Linked DNA regions of Homo sapiens: region 1 is reported to be linked to region 2. Evidence: microRNA targets listed by miRTarBase, many of them from high-throughput screens and not tested one by one. Region 2 holds a microRNA gene; the other region holds the end of a gene's coding sequence.
The links. Region 2 holds the annotated microRNA hsa-miR-8060 (CCAUGAAGCAGUGGGUAGGAGGAC, at 1,098-1,121, opposite strand). A microRNA usually pairs through its seed, bases 2 to 8, with sites in the 3' UTR of a target mRNA and lowers its output. Matches are read on the target gene's strand: a 7mer-m8 pairs with bases 2 to 8, a 7mer-A1 pairs with bases 2 to 7 and ends in A, and an 8mer does both.

Region 1 (3,000 bases), not on the chromosome of region 2:
GATCCGCCCACCTCAGCCTCCCAAAGTGCTGAGATTACAGGTGTGAGCCACCAAGCCCAGCCTAGAGTTGCTTTTCCCTAACTTCATGGACCAGATCTGGAAAAAGTGCAGAATCACAGTGGCCACTCACAGGGCTGTTGGGACTTCGCGCTGATGCTCAGACACTGGCCCAGTCCTACTGGCTCCACACGAGGGAGCTCGGGTTCAGTGGCAGTAGTGGGAGAGCTGAGGCAGCACGGTCTGGTCCTGAGGAAAGGGCCGCAAGAGCCTGGGAGTGGTTGTGTTTGGATCGTTGAGTTGGTGCTGCATGGTGTAGCGTCAGCTGCATGCAGGGGTCTGGGGGTTGGGGAGTGTGGGATGCCTGGTGTTCTGTGCTCCTGCCCCTGAGGCCCAGGATCCAGCATGGCAACGGGTCCCAGCAGGGAGGGTGTGGGTGTGGCAGGGGTGAAGTGGCTTCAGAGGCAACTGTTGGCCTTTTCCTGTGCCCAGGACTACCCCATCACAGATGTCTGCCAGATCCTGCAGAAAGCCAAGGAGCTCCAAGACTCAAAGTAGCCCGGCGGCAAGAGGCCCATGTTCCGGAGAGAAGCCTCCCGACCCTGTGCCCTGGCTCCCGGGACACATAGAAACCTGTAGGAACCCAGCCTGAGGGGAAGCCACAGGATCGGCCCGAGACCCAGGCCATGCCCACTGGGGACACACTGTGCCGTGCTCCTTCTGCCGCCACGCCCAGCTCCCCACCTGCCCTGCACTCTGCCCTCTTTGCCCAGGATACTGAGGAGGGCTGGAGCTCGGGAAGTTGTCCTTCCTGGGCCAGGGCCGTTTCTGGCACTGGGAGGCTGGCAGGGGCCCCTCCCTGCCTCGGCTCTGCCGCCCCAGCCTCAGTTCCTGCTTCTGGTCTTCTCCTGGGCTCCACTCAGGGGAGGTGCTTGGCCAATGGGCCAGAAACCGCTTCTGAGCGGGGCACTTCGGCTGCTCCACAGGGAAGGCGACACTGAAAGCTGAGTCCTGCCGTCTGTCTCACCCACAGATGTCTGTAGTCGGTCGGTGTGAATGTGGGCCCAAGTCCCCAGGCATCTTCTCCGTGTGTGTGTGTGTGTGTGTGTGTGTGTGTGTGTGTGTGTGTGTGTGTTAGGGAGTGAGGGTCTCTCAGGCCTCCAGGTCTCCCAGCCCCTCCTTCTCTGTCTCTACCTCTCTGCCTGTCTCCTTCCACCTCCTTCCCAGAGTGGGACTGTGTCTTGCTTCATGATTCCTCTCTCCATTACTCTCCCTGCCCTTCTCTGTTGGGGTGCCTTATCCTGAGCCACCTCCTCTCCCCGCTTGCCTCTGCTCCCCTGAACCTGGGAGACAGATGAGGAGACTGGCTCAGCAAGGCCCCTGGAGGTCAAGCTTGGCCTTTGCCTCCTGTTCCCATCCCCCAGCCCTGGCTCCTAGGTCCTCCCAACTGGGAGGGAGTCCTCCGTGCCTCACTTAGAGGGTTCTGAACCCGTTCCCTACACAGAAATCTTGGAAACCAAATGCTGCTGAGTAAGGATGAAGCTTTGAGCCTCCTGCCCCTGCTTTCTGCCCAGGGAGGGAGAAGGAAGAGGGGGAGCTGGTTTTTCTGGAGGTTCCCCCAGAGGCCCTCCTGTCCGAAAAGAAAAGGACCTTGATTCTGAGCCCAGGGTCGGAACCCATTGCTTCAGAAGAGTTGTCATTCCCTCGGCTTCCAGGTCCCAACCCAGGGTTGGGTTGAGTGAGTCCCACAAAGGGCAAGTGGGGCCCGAGGAAGCCTCTCTGGGGCCAGGGGTAGCTGAGCTTAAAGGCCCTGGGTCCTGCCAGTTCCAGGAGGGCCATGTCTGTGCCTCTGTGTACCCCTCCACCCGCTGCGGGCTGAGGGAGGTGCAGGGCCTTCTCTGACCCCTGCCTGAGCTGTTCCCAGGGCTGGAGCAGGTGTACCCTGAGCAGGGGCAGCTGGCCACTCCCAGTTCTCACCAAGTCACCTCCCTCCTTGTACAAGGTTTGCGTCCGGAAGCCGGGTGCCATAGTGAGGACCCTCGTCCTCCAGACTGGCTGGCAGGAGTCAGGCCCCAGCAGCCCTCCTGCCCCCAAAGCTTTCCGAGTCTGGTGGGCAGGACTTCTCGCTGCCCTTCCAAGCCCGGCTTTGGGCCAGGAAAGGCTTCCCCAGGTGGCTCTTCTACCAGGCTTTTCCTTTGATGCCGCCTGGATTTCCGCACCTGCCTGTCTCCTCTCCCAGAGCACAGTATTTGGGAGACTTTGACTATTTATTCAGACTCCTGGCTATGTATTGCACATTGGCAAGTGCTCTGGGGATGAGGCATGGGTATAGGAAGGGAGAAAGGAGTTGGAGACAAGATCCTCTTCATTTTCCAAGATCAAAGTCAGCCTCTTCTCCCCATGCTTCTAGGAACTGCCTGGTTTTCGAGCAGGTCCTGGCTGAGCGGGCTCTGAGTTCTGTACTGGAATTGAGTGTAAAGATGGGAAGAGAACTGGGCTGACTCCAGGACCTCCAGGATGAGGCAGAGGCATGATGCTTCCTGCTCACCTGGGCCACCCTCTCTCCAGGACTTGTCAGCTGGTGGTTCAGCCCCTTCTCCAACCCCTTCATAAGCTTGGGCCACTGCCTGGGACCCAGCAGACACTGCCCAGGACTCTTTAGTGCACTCACTCTTGTCTGCCCCCTACCTTCCCTCCTGGAACCACACTACTTGAATCACCATTACTTTGCCTCGCTGGCAGAGTTGGGTCAAGTGCCCTCTCCTTGACCTTGAGATGAAGGTCAAGAGCACAGGGACCAGGCCTTGGTTAGGCTGAGCTCCCAGCAGGACACCGCCTGCAGAAAGGACCTGCCCTGATAATGTCCCTTCCCCAGATTCTCAAGCAGATGCCCAAGGGAGGTCCCCACAGAGCCAGAGTGCCTGAGGCTTCCTGCTTGAGAACCTGCCCCCTGGATCTTGGACACTTACAGATTGAGCTGTATGAATTCAGCGGGTCTCACTC
Region 2 (3,525 bases):
GCCAAAGATGGAGTCATGGAAACTTTGACTTGAAGACGGTTGGTCAGAAGTTCTGGAGTCTAGGACTCGTAATAGATCTCTAGTGGGGGGCATACATCAGGACTGAACTCTCAATCTGAGGGATCTGATCCTATCTCTAGCTAGTGTTGGAACTGAATTGTAGAACACCCAGTTAATGTCCGCTGCAGAATTTATTGCTTGCTTGGTGGTGAGGAGAACCCCACCCACCTACATTTTATAACAGCAGTCTTCTGTGTTGATGATTGCTGTGGTCTGAAAGCAGACCAAAAACCAAAAGATTAAAAAAAAAAAGTCAACTTAGTTAAATTAGTAGTGAAATGTTCTAGGCATAAGCTTTGCTGCATAGCTCCAATACAGTATTAGCCACAGAACAAATTGTGTGCATAATTTGAAATGTGCATGTAAAGGGCAGCCATATTTTTGTATACTGGGAATGTTGGAACAGGGTGCTGTGAAGCTTCTACTGCTTGTGCACATTGTCACTGATCTGCTGGCTTATTGGTTGTTGTGAAAAAGCAGCTCACCTTAGAGTTCTTCCAGTTCTCACTGATTATACTCCTTCAGCTTTTCTAAGTCCTTGGCCAGAGCATGCAACACTGCAGCATTAGTAGCCAGGCTCTCAATTTCTCCGTGTTTTGTTGCATCCCTTCCTTGAGTTTCTTTGGATCCTGGTTCAAGTCTGTGCTTATCTCTGTGAGGAAAGCTTCTCCTGAAGTTCATCTGCAACATAGGGATGAAGGCAAGGAGGCAATGAGAGGCTGACCCAATTTTCGGCTCCTCCTTGAAGGTTCCATTTCTCTTTGCTCCCCCTGCCTCACTTTACGTTCACCATTCCTTCACAACCATTGGCTTTGCCAACCTCAAGCCCAGTAGCTGAGGAAGAAGCAATGATTGTATATAATCTGCGCACCTAGCCCCAACATTTTTTTAAGGTAACATCTCCATAGTTAATTTATTTTGTATTATTTATCATTATTCCATTTCAGTAATCAAATTCTCACGGGTAAACTATGAATTTCGAATATGAGGTTACCTAGTCACACATGTATTTCTAGTGGCCGTATGAGCTTTTTCCTGTCCTCCTACCCACTGCTTCATGGGATATCTGACCAGAATAGTAAGTGGGAAAAACAGGATTTAAACCTATGCTATATTGATTTATATGCACTTATGCTTTTATTTTTACTTTTATTTTACTTTTTCAAACTTTTATTTTAGATTCAGGGGTACCATACAGGTTTGTTTTATAGGTAAACTGTGTCACAGGGGTTTGTTGTACACATTATTTCATTACCAGGTACGAAGCCTAGTACTCAATAGTTATTTTCTCTGTTCCTCTCCTTGCTCCCACCTTCCACCCTCTGGCAGGTCTCTGTTGTTCCTCTCTTTGTGTTCATGCTCATTATTTAGCTCCTACTTGTAAATAAGAAATGTGATATTTGGTTTTCTGTTCCTGCATTAATTTGCTCAGGATAATGGCCTCTAGCTCCATCCATGTTCCTGCAAAGGACATGATCTCATTCTTTTTATGGCTACATAGTATTCCATGGTATATATGTACAACATTTTATTTATCCAGTCTACCATTGATAGGCATTTAGGTTGATTCCATGTCATTGCTATTCTGAACAGTGCTGCAATGAACATACACGTATGTGTGTGTCTTTATACAGAACAATTTATATTACTTTGGGCATATATACAGTAACAAGTTTGCTGTCAATTCTTAGTCCCTTTTTTGGCTCTTTGACGAATTGCCTTACTGCTTTCCACAATGACTGAACTAATTTGCACTCCTTCCAAAAATGTATGAGCATTCCCTTTTCTCCACAATCTTGCCAGCATCTGTTATTTTTTGACTTTTGGGTAATAGCCATTTTGACTAGTGTGGGATGGTATCTCACAGTTTTTATTTGCATTTCTCTAATGATCAGTGATATTGAGAACTTTTTCACAGGCTTGGTTGGCTGCATTTGTGTCTTTGGAAAATGTCTGTTCATGTCTCTCGCCCACTTTTTAATGGGGTTGTTTGCTTTTTTTCTTGTAAATTTCTTTAAATTCCTTACAGATGTTGGATATTAGACCTTTGTCAAATGCGTAGTTTGCAGTTATTTCTCTCATTCTGTAGGTTTTCTGTTTATTCTGTTGATAGTTGCTTTTGATGTGCAGAAGCTCTTTAGTTTAATTAGGGCCCATCTGTCAATCTTTGTTTTTATTGCAATTGCTTTTAGCATCATCATCCTAATATTTTTGTTGGAGCTTTTGTCAAGAATGATATTTCCTAGGTTATCTTCCAATGTTTTTATAATTTTAGGATTTACATTTAAGTCTTTAATCCTTCTTAAGTTGATTTTTGCTTATAGTGTGAGGAAGGGATCCAGTTTCAATCTTCTGCATATGGCTAGCCAGTTCTCCCAGCACCATTTATTGAATAGGGAATTCTTGCCTTATTGCTTGTTTTTTATCAGGTTTGTTGAAGATCAGGTAGTCTAGGTTTTGAGGGAAACTACCTCAAAATAATAAGAGCTATCTTTGACAAATCCAACATCATACTAAATGGACAAAAGCTGGAAGCATTCCGCTTGAACATGGGCACAAGACAAGGATGTCCTCCCACCTCATTCCTATTCAACATAGTATTGGAAGTTCTGGACACAACAGTTAGGCAAGAGAAAGAAATAAAGGGGTATCTAAATAAGATAAGAGGAAGTCAAAGTATCCCTGTTTGCAGACAACAGAATTCTATATCTAGGAAACTCTATAGTATTGGTCCAAAAGCTTCTTCAACTGATAAACAACTTCATCAAATTTCAGGATACAAAATCAACATATAAAAATCACTAGCATTACTATACACCAACAACAGTCAAGCCAAAAGCCAAATCTGGAATGCAATTCCATTCACAAATGCCACAAAAATAATCAAATCTACAATGAGAATTACAAAACACTGCTCAAAGAAATCAGAGATGACACAAACAAATGGAAAAACATTCCATGCTCATGGGTTGGAATAATCAATATTGTTGAAATGGCCATACTGCCCAAAGCAATTTATAGATTTAATGCTATTCCTATCAAATTACCAATAATGTTCTTTACAGAGCTAGTAAAAAACTATTTTAAAATTTGTATGGAACAAAAAAAGACCTGGAATAGTGAAGGCAATCCTAAGCAAAAAGAATAAAGCTAGAGGCATCATGCTACCTGACTTCAAGAGGGCTACAGTAACCAAAACGGGATGGTATTGGTACAAAAACACACACATAGACCAATGGAACATAATAGAGAGCCCAGAAGTCAGGCCACACACATACAACCATCTGATCTATGACAAAGCTGTCAAAAACAAGCAATGGCGAAAGGACTCCCTGTTGAATGAATGTGCTGGGATAACTGGCTAGCCATGTGCAGAAGATTGAAACTGGACCCCTTCCTTACACCCTACACAAAAATCAACTTAAGATGGATTAAAGACTTAAATGTAAATCCTAAAATTATAAA

Region 1: the mRNA of TBC1D13 is a reported target of hsa-miR-8060. Seed matches in the 3' UTR shown: 8mer at 1,242-1,249.

The regions. Positions count from the first base shown.
Region 1 is chr9:128,807,325-128,810,324 of GRCh38, forward strand. TBC1D13 (TBC1 domain family member 13) reads left to right here. Exons shown (of 12, transcript NM_018201.5): 12 at 490-3,000. The coding sequence ends at 555. Among named protein-coding and RNA genes, the nearest start is that of ENDOG, 9.7 kb to the right of the region's middle.
Region 2 is chr3:96,357,602-96,361,126 of GRCh38, reverse strand. It overlaps MIR8060 (microRNA 8060), which reads right to left and starts at 1,163; the gene lies at 1,088-1,163.